2 separate regions of the Homo sapiens genome follow, and region 2 is linked to region 1. The links come from fine-mapping of genetic effects on gene expression. Tissue or cell type: whole blood. Region 1 holds a variant in brackets; the other region holds the start of a gene. All regions are shown on one strand. Distances are from middle to middle.

Evidence for each region. PIP is the estimated chance that this variant, and not a neighbour inherited with it, causes the effect.
Region 2: it holds the start of PLCL1, and the variant in region 1 is fine-mapped to the expression of PLCL1 in whole blood (TOPMed, PIP above 0.99).

The regions. Positions count from the first base shown.
Region 1 is chr2:198,103,548-198,111,411 of GRCh38, reverse strand. PLCL1 (phospholipase C like 1 (inactive)) reads right to left here. Exons shown (of 6, transcript NM_006226.4): 5 at 7,476-7,585. Among named protein-coding and RNA genes, the nearest start is that of LINC01923, 270 kb to the left of the region's middle. The variant G/A (reference allele first, on the strand shown) is at 4,513.
Region 2 is chr2:197,800,867-197,808,730 of GRCh38, reverse strand. PLCL1 (phospholipase C like 1 (inactive)) reads right to left here and starts at 4,138. Exons shown (of 6, transcript NM_006226.4): 1 at 3,392-4,138. The coding sequence starts at 3,631. LOC105373828 (a long non-coding RNA gene) reads left to right here and starts at 4,185. Exons shown (of 4, transcript XR_001739850.3): 1 at 4,185-5,022; 2 at 6,912-6,993; 3 at 7,845-7,864. RefSeq lists a silencer at 3,962-4,091.

The DNA.
Region 1 (7,864 bases):
GTCCTACTCCATGAAATCAGACTTGACTGTGGCTTGCTTTGACCAGTCAAATGTGAGTGGAAGGGACATGTGACTCTACTGGGCAGAAGCTTTTAAAGACCATTTTTGCATCCCTACCTCTGGGATTGTAGAAGTATTTGCTGGGATGGAGTCCCCATTAGCCTGTGTTCCTGAGTGACCATTACTTACCTGTGATGGACATGTAGTACAAGCAAGAAATAAGCCATTGTGTTATATTGTAGTAGATTTTCAGATTTTTGTTACTATAGCACAACCCAGCATACCCCAACTGATACAAGAGCATAGAGACAAAACAAAATTTTCCCAAAGACACAGAGCTAGGAAGTGTCTGGCTGCAGCGTCTGTACACTTAATCACTTTGCCTGCTGTTTCTCAATAATTGATAGTATAATAATATCAATATTAAGGATGGTTTATTATTAATGCATTATTGTTGTTGTTTGGAGGTCTGTTTCTACACTTTGTAAATATACTTTTTTTTCTGAATACTCAAAAGGAATCCTAGCCTTTCTCTAGATTCTACAGCAACAACAGCTGGCAGATGCCAGAGACACCACTGGAAAAGTTCTCAATAGACAATGTGGATGATACTGGGCATGTTCCTTCTTTATATACCCTCAGGCAGCCCCCAAAGGCATGGTCACTATGTCTGTTGGAAGAGCCTGGTTTGAACATTCACACTAACAGCCCCCTCTCCACAGTATCTCATAGAATGATTTTAAATATCTATGGCCAGTAAGTGAAGGGTAGCCCACTTCTCACTCTCACTCAGCTTTCAGAGATGGATGCCTCTCCTCATACTTCTTTTCCCATTAGCCCATCATCTGTTTCCTTTCTTTTGTCTCTCAACAATGAACAGAGACTTCAAATGTGTTTTCAGGCTCTAATTGAAAGCGTATTTCTACACTGACATCCATGTAATTTCCTCTGTTGTAGCAAGATTCCCCAGAACTGTAAGGTCCTGAAATTCGGGAATTCAGTGAGGGAATCTGCCTGGGTTAGAAACATAACTACACACGGAGAAGTGAGAAGCTTCAATCTCTGCTCTTCCCACGGAAATTGAAAATGTTTTAGATAAAAGCAGAAGGAGCAAAGGCTTAAGTAGTGATAAAAAGCAAAAGCGTTATGGGGAAAAGTAATAGTCACATATACTAAACATAAATTTATAAAAGCAGCCCAGAATCATGGCACACATTGGAATGCATTAAATTATAAGTTGGAAATCTATCCAGGAAAAGTGTAAATACATATTTAATAGGAATGACCATTGAAGAGGTAATAGTTATATTCATTTTTTATTTATTGCCTGTTATTCAACAAGTAATCAATGAAAGTCATGAATAAATAAGAAGGGCAGCTACTTCTTAACCCTTTTATTTCTCTTTAAGCTCTAGTGATTACCTACTTCATAGTTTTTCCTTTGTAATAAAATATTTATTAATTATATTTCTTTAATATTATTTTTATATATCTCTACTTGATACTTCTCCAGCCTGCTAAAATTGATTTTTACATAAAACTTTTAAAAACACAAAGTAATAAAATTTAGTTTCTTAAAATAGCCAACAGGACAAGTTAGAAAAATATATATTGGGAAAGCTCACTAAAATGCTCCCCTTGGGTTCTTTCTAATTTCAGTTTTATAGATGTGATCACCTTTACAATGCAGTTCTTTTTGTACTTAAAAAGTCAAATCACTCTGGATAGAGTTCAAGACTTTAGATGAATTCCACTTCATTGCAAATAGCATTTTATCAGTGATATAGTGTAATTCCACATCTTGCTCCCAAGAGATCTTCAGAACTCTCATGAGTGAAACACTTCCAAAATTACTAACAATGTACTAGAATATGTTGGCTACGTAAGTGAAGTTGTAGTATCCCTTTCTGAAAGCCTTAAAAAACAGGAAAAATTTCCATTTTGAGATTTTAATATTATGTTAACAACCAAATGTCTATAGTTTGAATGTTTGTGTCCCTTCCAAAATTCATGTTGGAACTTAATCCCCAATGCAATAATATCAAGAGGTAAGGCCTTTAGGAGGTGATTAGTGCCCTGTAAAAGGGCTGGAGGGAACTAGCTAGGCCCTTTTACCTTCTTTTGCCTTTCTTTCCCTTCAGCCATTTGAGGAGACACCGTTCCTCCCCTCTGAAAGACGAAGCAAGAAGTCACCATCTTGGAAGAAGAGACTGTGCTCTCACCAGACACTAAATCCACTCCTGCCTTGATCTTGGATTTCTCAGCCCCAAGAACTGTGAGAAATAAATTTCTGTTGTTTATAAATTACCCAGTCTCAGGTATTTTATTATATCAGCACAAGAAGGACATCATGGAGAAGAAACAGAGGGAAAGGTCTTTTAACATGTGAGGGTGGAATGGAATGGAGTTATTTTGATCCAGTGATTGTCTTGAAAAGGTAGTGAGGACTGAATCATCCTATCATCCTAAATAAACACAATGGCTATGTAAGGAGACCAATTTCATGTACAATAGTGAAAAAGAAAGAAAGGAAGAGCAAATTGACTGCTACAGTTGGATATAGACATATGGCAAAAGTATGGAAAAATGCAAAAGATACGCTAAACAAGTCCCTATACTGGACCCACGTAGGTGCTAGAATATGAATTAAAGAAAAACACAAGTGTGGGATCTTCCAGAAGCACCTTGATTTCAGTTTCCTTGCTAAATACTAAGTCCTGGTCTCTGCAACAATTTGGACACTGTAATTATAATTCTTATTCATTATATTGTCGTTAGTCATTTTTCTTTCTGCAATTTTTTTCTCCAGCTTTTAATATCAGATAAATGTAATATTGAACTGCAGAAAACACTAAACAATTTATTTTTCAGTCTCAGCTCAATTTACTCTAAAGCCAATGCCCCTTTGCACCACTCCATGCTGTCAATCCCCCAACTTGCTGAGGGCACATTTCTCATTTTTTTCCAGCTCCTTCCTTACTTATTGGAAATTACACTGGAATTAAATATTTTTAGAAATACAAACCAACACATTTAACCAGAATTGGTTAATTCCCACTCCCTCTCTCTAGATAGTAGGGAATACTAGTCTAAATCATGTATAAGGAAACTTTTTCAGTAGGCAACGCAGAATTGTACCACAGCCTCCTAATTCAGTGATTATGTCTTTCCAGGATGGTTATTAATCATTCAACCAACTGGAAGCAAGGTAAATTGAATCTACTAAACTTATAAACAAAGAGCATTTATTAAAATACTTAGAGGAGCTCTGAAAATCAATAGCAAGTCTGGAGAATTAATTGGGAATCAAGTGTTTCAGATCTAATGCATAAGAACTAAAGGAAGAATCGTATAGAAAAAGATATCTTCTTAGAGCAGCACCACTGGAATAAAAAGTCTCCAACAGAGCCCAGGCTCTTTTTCTCTCAGCTAATAATTCAAATTCAAAGGAGGTCATTTGTCCAGCTCTTGGGGAAAGGACACCAGATTAACAGGCCCCAAACTCAATGGAGGAGAAAAAGGAGCTATTGGAAGTGTGGAAATGTTCTCTACTCTTGTTTAGTAGTAGTCCACTACTCTAGTGCTCAAGCTGAAATACCAGCAGCTAGTATGTGAGTTATAATAATAGAAAATCAATTCTGTCTGAAAAGCTCTCTCTTGGAATAATTTGAACAGCATTTGCTCAATCACATCTAACAATCAGCTTCTGTTACTAAACCAAACAAAAACATTAAGAAATCTCTGACAACACTAAGTGGGCTTAAGTCAGAAGTTAACAAAGAAATAAAAATAACAAAAACCTCATTTCTCCATGTTTATCCTCACCTGGCAAACAAACAAATAACAGCTAACATATATGCTGTCTAGTTTTGTGCACTGTGACTTACATCTTTTGTATGTATTATCTCATTTAATTCTCACAAAATCTGAGATGTAGGTATTATTACTACCCTGAGGGAGATTATATAACTTGGCTAGTCTCACCACTATCAGGTAATCACACAGGGCCTGCATTCTTATTCCTGCACTAGGCTGCCTGGACCCAATGGGACTGATATGGTTTGGACCCAAATGTCATCTTGAATTGTTGTTCCCACAATCCCCACGTGTTGTAGGAGGGACCTGGTGGGAGGTAATCAAATCATAAGGGAGGTTATCCTCATGCTGTTTTCATAATAGTGAGTGAGTTCTCACAAGATCTGATGGTTTTATAAAGGGCTTTTCCACCTTTTGCTCAGCACTTCTCCTTGCTGCTGCCATATGAAAAAGGACATGTTTGCTTCCTCTTGCACCATGACTGTAAGTTTCCTGTGGCCCTCCCAGCCATGCTGAATTGTGAGACAATTAAACCTCTTTCTCTTATAAATTAATTACCCACTCTCGGGTACGTCTTTATTAGCAGCGTGAGAAAAGACTAATACAGGGACTCAGCCACATGGATGGAGTTTTAGAGGAGGCAGAACAGTGTAGTGGATAGAACCATGGGCGTGAGTTAAAAATTGCAGGCTGGCT[G/A]TTTACTAGCTGTGTGACTCCAGGCAAGAAATTTCAACCCCCACAAGCCTCAATTTCCTCATTTGTGAGATGGAGAGAGTCCTATCAGAGTCAGCATGTCATGTTGCAAGATTGCACTGTTGTGGCAAGGAAGAAAGGGGAAATGTACATAAAGTACCTAGCCTTGAGTGCTGATCACAAAATAAGTGCTGAACAATTGATGGCCATTATTAGTTACATGTCTGTCTCTCCTTATAGACTAGTCTTGGAGACCCAGGTAATCCTCCTGATATTTGTATCCCTAGCACCTTTCTGTGACAGGCACATTAACAAGCCCATATAAAATCTTCTGAACATAAAATGTTTATATCAGGGTACACACTGCCACATTATAATCTAGGGTTATAATAAGCACCTCTTTAACACTACAGCTCTAGGTCATCCCTGCTCCTTAAGCAAATGATGCCTTATCCATCCCCCTCCTCCACTGGACTCAGACTGCTAACTTCATGAGGTCAGGGTCTGTATCTCATGTTCTCCACGTATTCCCAGTGCCTAGCACAGAGCCCAATGCATAGTAGGGGCTTATCACTTGTGGACTGAATTTTTAATAGACATTTGTAATATGTCTTACAGCTAACCTAACACTTTCACATAAACATGTGCAGCATCTCTGCAGCACAGGTTAAAGACACAGGGTCTGGAGCCAGACTGCCTGAGCTTAAAATTTAGTTACACCATTTACTAGCTGAGCGCCCTCAGGAAATATACACAGACTTCCAATGCCTCCGTTTTCTCACCTGTAAAATGAGATTAATAACGATACTGAGTTGGTGTGAGTATTAAATTGTTAATTCATATAAACCTCATAAAACAGTACCTAGCACAAAATGAGTGTTCTTTAAATGTCAGCAATTATTAATTTTGTTTGTAGCTATTTTTCTCCCATTTAGCTGTCAAGAATATATTGTCTGCCTAAATCATTTCTTTTTTCATGTAAGAAAATATAAAAAGTGGCATATTTACTTCAAAATTCTAAAATTCATGTGCAGCAGAGAGCAAATCATAATCTCAAGAAAATGACTTCCAAAGTTATTTGCAAAAAGAAATGTATTTATAGGAACTGTTCTTAAAATAAAAATCCTCAATGGCCCTAGATATTTTGTACTTTGTCTCTTCAAAATCATTTGTGTTGGAATCTTCCCCAGAAGCATTTGTCATTATTCTTTCCACAAACAAGAACAGCCATATTGACTTGAACGTAAGTATTCATGTGAGTAAACACACACACACACACACACACACACACACACACACACCAGGCAAATTAATCTCACACATGGGCTGTACCCTGCCTGCACCGAAAACCTCATTGCCTTATTAAGGCAAAAACCATGTTAATTCCAGTATGCAGCTCCCCATCTCCTAGAGTATGAACCTAGAGATCAAGCCACACATTCCTGAAGCCATCACTTGACCCAACTTCAAACGATACTACAAGGCTACAGTAATCAAAACAGCATGGCATTGGTACAAAAACAGACATATAGACCAATGGAACAGAATAGAGAGCTCAGAAATAATGCTGCACACCTACAACCATCTCAGCTTCAATAAAGTCAACAACAACAAGCAATAGAGAAAGGACTCCCTATTCAATAAGTGGTGCTGGAATAACTAGCTAGTCATGTGCAGAAGATTGAAATTGGACCTCTTCCTTGTACCATATACAAAAATCACTCAACATGGATTAAAGACTTAAATGTAAAACCTAAAACTATAAAATCTCTGGAAGTTAACCTAGGAAATACCATTCTGGACATAGGACCTAATAAAGATTTCATGACAAAGACACCAAAAGCAATTACAATAAAAACAAAAATTGACAGTGGGATCTAATTAAAGAACTTCTGCACAGCAAAAGAAACTATCAAGACAGCAAACAGACAACCTACAGAATGGGAGAAGATATTTGCAAACTATGCATCCAACAAAGGTCTAACATTCAGAATTTATAAGGAACTTAACAAGCAAAAAAATAAACACCCCATTAGAAAGCAGGCAAAGGACGTGAACAGACACTTTTCAAAAGAAGACATATACGCGGCCAACAAGCATATAAAAAGGTGTTCAACATCACTAATCCTTAGAGAAATCCAAATCAAAACCACAGTGAGATACCATCTCACAGTCAGAATAGCTAAAAGTCAGAAAATAACACATGCTGGCAAGGTTGTGGAGAAAAGCGAATGTTTATACAATGCTGGTGGGAATGTAAATTCATTCAGCCATGTGGAAAGCAGTGTGACAATTTCTCAAAGAACTTAAAACAGAATTACCATTTGACCCCAGCAATCCCATTAGTGGGTATATACACAAAGGAATATAATTCCTTCTACCATAAAGACACATGGACATGTCTGTTTGTCACAGCACTATTCACAATAGCAAAGCATGGAATCAACCTACATGTCCGTCAATAGTGGACTGGATAAAGATAATGTGGTACATATACACCACAGAATACTACACAGCCATAAAAAAGAATAAGATCATGTCCTTTGCAGCAACATGGATGGAGCTGGAGGGCTTTATCCTAAGCAAACTAATGCAGAAACAGAAAACCAAATACTATATATTCTCACTTATAAGTGGGAACTAAACAATGAGACCACATGGACACAAAGAGAGGAACAGCAGACACCAGGGACTACATGAGGATGGAGGGTGGGAGGAGAGAGAGGGTCAAAAAACTACCTATTGCATACTAGGTGCTTATTACTTGGGTGACAAAATAATCTGCACTCCAGCCCCCCGCGACACACAGTTTACCTATATAACAAACCTGCACATGTAACCCTGAATCTAAAGTGAAGGTTTAAAAATCCAAACCATCATATTTAATCCTTTACATTTCTCTACACATTGGAGAGATGAGGAGAAGAAAAGTAAAGGCACAGGGGACATCTGAGTGTTTCATCTACCTTCAATACTGTAATGTTCCAAGCAAAGCTCTCAGTTGCTTTGTTGAGTTTTCTTCCCTTCAAGCCTTCTTTTGCCCCCAAATTATGAAGTTCTTCATGGAACTCCATCCCTTTGAAGAAAGAATGCATAAGAAATCTGAGTATATATCTCAGAAAAATGGGCATCTTATAATGAAAATATTATCAGTAAAATATAATTTCACATTCCTGTCTTCTCATAATTTCCAAATCCCTAAATTGAATTATCCTTTTCATTCTGTTCATCCCACCAAGTAGCTGTCCTTATGCACAAATTGACAACAGTCAATGCATTAGGCTAAATTGTATTTAAAACAGCCAGGAGCCATAGAAAATGACATGAGAAGGAAAAAAGTAAATTCTATGGGTAC
Region 2 (7,864 bases), 300 kb after region 1:
CTTCCTATTTCCAAAACATTACAATTATTACTGCACTACAGCTATTTGGAACAGCATTTAATGTTTTGATTAATATAAAATGTACTAAAGCTTTTCTTCTTTGTGTACATTTCAATGCCAAATTTAAAAAAACTCTTGGCAAAACTGTGAAAAATGCATTTTCTCTCAATATAAAACATTTGCTATGTATTTCTTATATGATCTAGACTTTTTTTGGAAACTCATTTTTACTATGCTAAAGGGAACAAACCACAGGGCAGCAGATTATAGGGCTATAAGCAATAATCTAAAATGTTAAATATTTTAAATGCTATAAGTTTGATATCAAATACCAGATAAATAAATGGTCTTATTTCTTAATTAGAAATATATTCAAATGCAGAATAGTAAACAACTTTTAGAGATTATCAATACTGCAGGTATCCAACTTGTCATTTCAAACCACAAGTCATCAAGAAGAAATTAAAATGGATTCTATTGCATTATTGTGGTATATAACAATGCGCTTACCAAAAAACATGCAGCATTTATCAATGTCAATGCTGTTGAAACAATCACACAGAAAAATATAGGAAAAAGTAGACAGATTTTAAAAAAACTTAGTTTAATTCTCACATTGAACGTTTTTAAACCTAGGATTGGTTATATGTGGGGAAGAAACACAATGTCAGTAGAAAGAATTTCTGAAGATGCATACAGATAAATGTTGTCATTGTTTTCCTCAGCTCAGAAGAAAATTGTTTTTTCAACTAAACACATGTTTTCACAAATTATGGAGGGCAAATTTACTAAAAACATTCTTTTTATTAATATACAAGACAGTCTGTTTTCTGTCAGGATAGCACTATTCTGAAACAATACCTTAAATTGAGCTGACAAGAATTTAATATTTGATGATTCACAACCTTTCAGTGGCTCAGCATTATGAATATCAATTATTACTGCACTACAGCTATTTGGAACAGCATTTAATATTTTGATTAAAATGTACTAAAGCTTTTCTTCTTTGTGTACATTTCAATGCCAAATTTAAAAAAAAATCTCTTGGCAAAACTGTGAAAAATGCATTTTCTCTCAATATAGAACATGTGCTATGTATTTCTTATATGATCTAAACTTTTTTTGGAAACTCATTTTTACTATGCTAAAGGGAACAAACCACAGGGCAGCAGATTCAAGAATGTCACCAGAAAGGTTCTTGATCTCAGAGACGGAGTGGAACAGAGCTTACCACCTGCCTTTTTTTCTCCTTAGAAGGGCGTTAAGGCCTCTGGGAACAGACCCCAATGACTGCTGCCCACCAAAGACCTACCAGATTACCCCCTCTAGGCTTCAAAAATGCTTAAAACTATGAGACTTGTAAAACTCTAGCCAGATTTTTTTGTAGAAATCAGGAGCTGCTATAGTTCATCATAGACACATATAGATATATCTGCTTACACATGCATGGAATATTTTGGAAGCATACATAAGAAAGTGTTAACATCTATGAGGGTGGACTACATAAGTGGGAATGTGGAGTGTCTGAGGGTCTTTCCTTCACACTCCTTTGCAACATTTGATTTTTTAAATTATATGTATGTGCTACTTTTCCAATAAAAACCTAACATAATAATTCACTTTATTTTCTAATATCTTTAATTTTAAAGGCCATTTACCAAATGTTAATTGCATTTACTATTAAATAGGGGAAAAATCAAGTTAATATTCTGTTGTCTCCCTCCTTTTTTGTCACAAAAAGAAACTTCAAAACAAAAGAGGCACCATTACTCAGCAATGACCCTTCTGAGAATATAAACCAGCATAGTACAATTCACAAGTGGCAAACTCAGTTGCAAGAATTTGTATATTCCTTATACTCCATTACTTTTGTTTTTTACAACATTATAGAGCCGTTTGCTCTTTATTGTCATATATTTTAAAGTCTCTTGCAGTGCCTGTTTTACACACACAGGACACCATGTAGTATCAATACAGTAGAATCCAAAATGTATGTGTTTCCTAATTGTGATGTTTTTTAAGTTTGAAAACAGTGTGCTTTCTGACCTGTGGGTTAAAAACAAAATAGTAATTTCCCTTTGTCCAAATTCACACCCAGAATAGAACACTCCTGTTACATAATCAAAAAGCCACAAAATAACAGAAACTACTACAAGCCATTTGTAATTACCACCCACTCTTCTTTATATATTATAGAAACCTCTCCACTGATTTTAAACTTCCATGTGTCAGTGTTGGGAAAAAGACTTTACTGGAGCCACATTCTGTGGTTAGTCTACCTAAGCTGGTGCTGGGAGCTTGCAACATGCGTGATGCACTGGTTACGCAGCTTAACCCTGAACAGAGCTTTTGAATATATTAGTGAACCCAATAAATTCAATAGTAAGTAAAAGTCCATCTTTCATTGTCATTGAGGGATGTGTGTGTGTGTATGTACACACACACATATATACTTACATATATACATACATACATATCGTTTTATACTGACTGCTCCACCAAAATCAATTTTAATCTGACATACATTTGATTGATTACTCACATGCATTTACACTGAGGCCCTTTTCCAGAGCCTGTGCGAGGGTTCTTTCCTAAATAACCTTACCCCAAAGTCATGCTCCCAAAAGAGGAAATCTCGAACAGAAGAAACAAGCCCCAAGTGGAAGGAAGATGGAAAGAGAAAGGGGAGGAAAGAGGTTTACAAATTCCTTGCCAAATGGATGGAGAGAAATTCTGTGAGGTGATTAGCGGGTCAGGAAGCGTTTTCCCTGGATGTGGTGGTAACCACAAGGACCAGTGATAATGCTTGGGGGATTGATTGCTTTCCGGTTGTGCTTTCTGCAGCGCAAAAACTCTGGGCTCTTGCATTGCTCTTTACTGTGATGCAGGGTCCACTTAAAACTCTGCCTCCCTACCGGGAAAGTTCACACATCTTGGGATTTCGGGATCATTTAAGTCTAGAGGGATTCTTTTTTTACACTTGAGAGTAAGCTGTGCATTTTCTTCATTGTATGGGAAAAGCTAACCCTTCATTGGAAAGCAATGCACAACCATCCGGTGGGTCTGCATTTATCCAGAGTTCTCCCTTCCTCCCTCCATCAACGGTTTAGTGAAGCTTGCAGAGAAAATGAGGGAAAGCATCCATCAGAACGCAAAGACGCAGAGCGGAACTTTTCCTCTGCCGTCAGTGGGGAGAAAAAGTCACTTGTGCGTCTCGTGGCTGACAGCTGAGTCTGGGAACCTCCGGATAAGGAAGGAAGGTTTGGCGTTGAAGGAGGTGGGAGAAAACAATGCTGAGCCCGGATGCCTCCGGACACCGCACATCCTGCCCGGGTCCCTGACCCACCCATCACCCACAGCCACGCTCCCGGTGCGGCGCGGCTTTGCTTACCTTGATGATGCTGCTGCGCCGGGGGGTCGCCCGTGCTGCCTCCAGGAGGCCCGCCTCGCTGTCCGCTGGGGTCCCCGCGGCGCCTGGCAGTGCGACCCCGCTGCGACGGTCCCTCATCCGGCCCCCAGAGGCCGCCGTCACGCAGTCCCCGGCGGCATCCGGGCCCACTCGGGGGTCGTCTTCGCCCCCCGCCGCGTCGGGCGGCGCCGGATCCTCCCTGCCGGCCGCGCCCTCGGCCATGGCCTGGAGCGTTTAGGGCTCCCCGGGGGAAAGCGGGACGCCCGGCAGCGGAGTCCAGCCGCTAGGCACCGGTGCGCTCCTGCACCGGGAGGCGGCCCCGCCAGACTTTGTTTCACCGCCCAGCGGCGGCAGTGGCGGCGGCGGCGGCGGCGGCGGCAACTTTCTGGAGAGGGGACATCGCTCGGGCAGAGACGTCCTCGGGCTTCGGTCTAGGAGGCTAGCAGTCCGGCGGGGGACGGTGGCGGGAGTGGGGAGGCGATGTGAGCGGGAGGCAGAAGGAGAGGCGAAAAAGAGAGGGAGGTATCCGAAATGTGATGCAAACGCCGGCCCTGCGCCAGACAAAAGGCACCGGGCGCCCAGCCAGGCGGCCTCTGGAGCCCGGACGCCGGCGGCCCGATAGGGGCCAGAGCCGGGCGACTGCGGCCGGGCGCACCCGCCACCTGCCCGCGGACTGCGGCGCAGCGGTCCCAGGAAGTGCGGCGGCGGCGGCGGCCTCCACTCAGCTCTGTTGTGACAGGGAGGGAGACTTGTTTTGACAGCCCTTGGGGATTGGCAGGCGTCTGGGCCTCTTAGGAGCCTCGCCTCGCCGAGGGGGCTCGGCCCGACCAATCCTCACTGCGGAGGGGTGTGCCCGAGCGCGAAGAATGGAATGTGTTCTGCAACTGGGAGCCGGCCCAGCGGGGCTAATGTACTCGAGCCAGGGTGTACCCGCGCGCGCGCGTGTGCAAACCCGGAGGCGCTCCGTGTATATTTTAGGAAGTTTAGATTTGCGAAATGAGCCTGAGATGCAACAAAAATCCAGGTTGGGTGAAGGAGAGGGGAGAAAGAAACCTTCTTCTGCCAAACAAAGCAATTTGGAGGAAAGTGGGTATTGAGTATGAATGTCTAAGCGTTTGGGGTGACGGGGTGAAGCTTTGCGTGGTCACAGGTTAATTGCAGGCTCTCAGGCCAATTCTTAGAAGTCAAGTCCATGCAGAGATAAACTAGGGTTTACTGGGATCTTGGGGTTCCATAATTTGCTTCAGGTTCCAGGAAAGGATTCTAAGGTCATTCTGCAGTGTGAGTAAATATAACAAGGAAAGGGAGTCAGTGAAAGAGATGAGGGTGAAAGGAAACTGAACCAACTAAATCCCTCCGAAGACTGACTCTTAAAAAGCACAGATATAATCCAAGTCAGATAAATGCAGGTGGGGAGTTTAGTCTCTATCCTAAAACATTCCTATTTGACAATGGTTCAGCCTCCTTTCTCTATATAATCCTATATAAAAACATATTTTGCTCATTTCCAGTAAGCTAGCAACCAAGAAGGGAGAGATCTTTGGATGATGAGTTAAGTCACTGAAATTATCCACAGAATGCTCAGATGCAAACCATGGTCCTAAGGCTCCCTGGTAAGACAAAAGACTTGGCATTTTAATTTTAAACTCCTTTGATATTAGAATCTATATTAAACCTCACTTATAACATTACATTTTATCTTATTAATAATTTAATAATTTGAGATTTTACTTGTTCCTTAGTCTGGCTAACAGCATGAGAAATTATTCAGCATTTTAGACCAACAATTTGGTTTGAATCTCATAATTTTAGAGATATATGGGGATTTAGGGATCAACTAGGACATCATTTTTGTTTTACGGTTGAGACAAAGGCCCAGGGAGTCTTGTCTACTAGTTAGTGCAGGAGCCAAAATTAGAATCAGCCACCCAACTCCTCCGATAATCTCTTCACTACTTTATCTGTCTCCTCTGGGCTACAACCAGCCAGAACTGGCAGGGGCACTTGGGAGGTTTCAGATTTGACATTTATCAACTACTAGGGAATACTGAGAAGGCTTGACTTTGCCTTTTCTTTAAACATAAATGCAGCCTAGTAATGAATGTACTGTAGAGAGTAGCAGTGACCTCTGGTTTTAGAACCAACACCACCCTCTAGTGAGATTCTGAGAACTGCATCCATAACAGCAAAGGCTTCTTTTTCCCCCTCATCTTTAAAAGACAGGAGGGGTAACCCAACAAAAGTTTCCTTTTCAACAGGTATGCCTTTACAACGCACAGACTAGAGGAAGAAAATAAAGTGTACCCAGACTTAAAACAACCATACATGTCTTCCATCTCCTTTAGTTCAGGGAATTCCTGTCTATGCTATATAGGAAATATTTTTAATTGCTATCCTCAGAAATATATCTTATTTTAGGCTATCATTTTTTTCTTTGATATTCAACTATTATTACATTTGACTTCTGTCATTTACAGTTGTCAGTGCTTCATTTTTCTTTGTTACTCTAATAAAAGTCCCATTCTTCGGTTGTCCTCTGAAAAATGTAAAACTGCCTTTATCTCACTCATTATCTTGTTATAGGATATTAATGTCATTTATAAGTTCCTCATCCTACAGATTTGTGTACCATTATGATAATAATTTATTTTTACAAATTTTAAAATTAGCATCACTTTATTAACAAACATTCAAGGTCAGTGATTTAAAAAAAAACAGAGGCCAGAAAGTACAGCATATAACTTGCAAAATGTTGTATCTTTCAACTAGACAATGTCTAGTTGGACTCTTTTCTCTTCCTTGGCATCCTTCCCTCTCACCCTCATGTGAAAGTGCACACACACACACACACACACCCCTCTGATTCCTTTGCTCTGAGCCTCTATCCGTAAAGATTGTTGTCTAAATTACTCTGCTTTGATAAACTAGTTGGACCCTAATCTAGCAAGTCGTTTATATTGTTGTGTTCCAGCATAAGCTCAGAAGGCTTTTCCTGATACTCATGTTTGCAATTGAAAAAAAAAAAACCCCTCCTATGTACTTGCTCCTAGCCAGGAGCAGATTCTGCTTTGTGGACCCACTTCAAAAACTGAAAGAGACTAGCTAGTTTCAGTTAAGTCAGCAGCCATGGGCACATTCCTACCCCTGCATTAACAGTCCCTCTTTCCAAATAGCTGTCACCTACAATTCTTGCCTCCCAACCTTTTACCAAGTCATGGTGACAATTGCTAGATTGGCAGATTGGAATTTGGGGGTGAGCAGGGGTAGGAAGGTAAGATATGAATAATAGTAACGAGCAGGAAATTCAAATGTTACTACGTCAGAAAGGACTCTCTAACTACAAATCTCAAGTTGCCCCTACAAGCCTCAGTACATGTCAGTCATATTGTGTTTTGTCTTCTCACAGGATTTTATCACTGTGAACAAACTGTCTTTTCCGTGGAATTGTTTACTTACATATTCTGTTTTACTTTCCCCCTATCTCTGCTTCACTGAAATGTAGAATGCCATCTCCATGTGCCTAAAGACCTTGCGATTTTATTCATTGCTGTATCTCCAGCTCCCAGAACTATGTCTGGAACAGAGTAAGTGCTCAATAAATATTTATGGACAGAGGACTTTTGCAGTCCTGTGACTAAATAAAATAATCAATCTGATAAAGAAAAATGGTTCTGTCACTGTCTGCATGGTAGAACTTCTCATCCTCAAGGATCCTAGAATTCCATTTTAGAGCAGAAATCAGAACAGATCCACACCAAGCAGCTACAAATCTCAGAAGAAGGGCACTTATTAATTGGAATGACTTGAAATCTAGAATTAGACTGAAATACAACCAATAAGAACTAAGCAAGTTCTAGCAGTCCTGAAAATACCTAGACCAGACTAAAAGACTAGATATGTCAATATAGTCCTTCCAGCCAGGGAAGTCCAGAACCCTGGGCCTGAGAAAAAACCAGTGAGAATATTAAGACTTTCCATATACTACCAGGAAGTCATAGTGGGGGGAAAAGAACTATCTCTTTGATAACTGCTTTCTATGTACCAGATAATCCTCTCTGCAGTATTCTGATCTCCACTTCACAGATAAGAAAACTGGGGATCAAAAGGGTCAAGTAGCTTGCTTGAAGTTAGAGCCAACTAGGAAGTGAAAGAACCAGCATTTGAGGCAATGTTAGTGACTTCAAAGCCTGCATTCTTCCTGCTACCCAAAGCTCTCATAAGATACAAGTCCAGTAGCTGTCCTGGAGAATGAAGAGCCACTCCTTCAGATCTGGGACCACTCATATTAACCATGACAACCTCCTCTCTCAACATCAACATGACCTTTATGTCATCAGCATGGACCACCAGTATGACTGATTCATTAGTGCATGAGGAAACACATTTATCATCTCATTCACATATGTGTAAGAAAAATATTTTTATATTGAGACAGGTCTCCTAATAAGTTAAAGG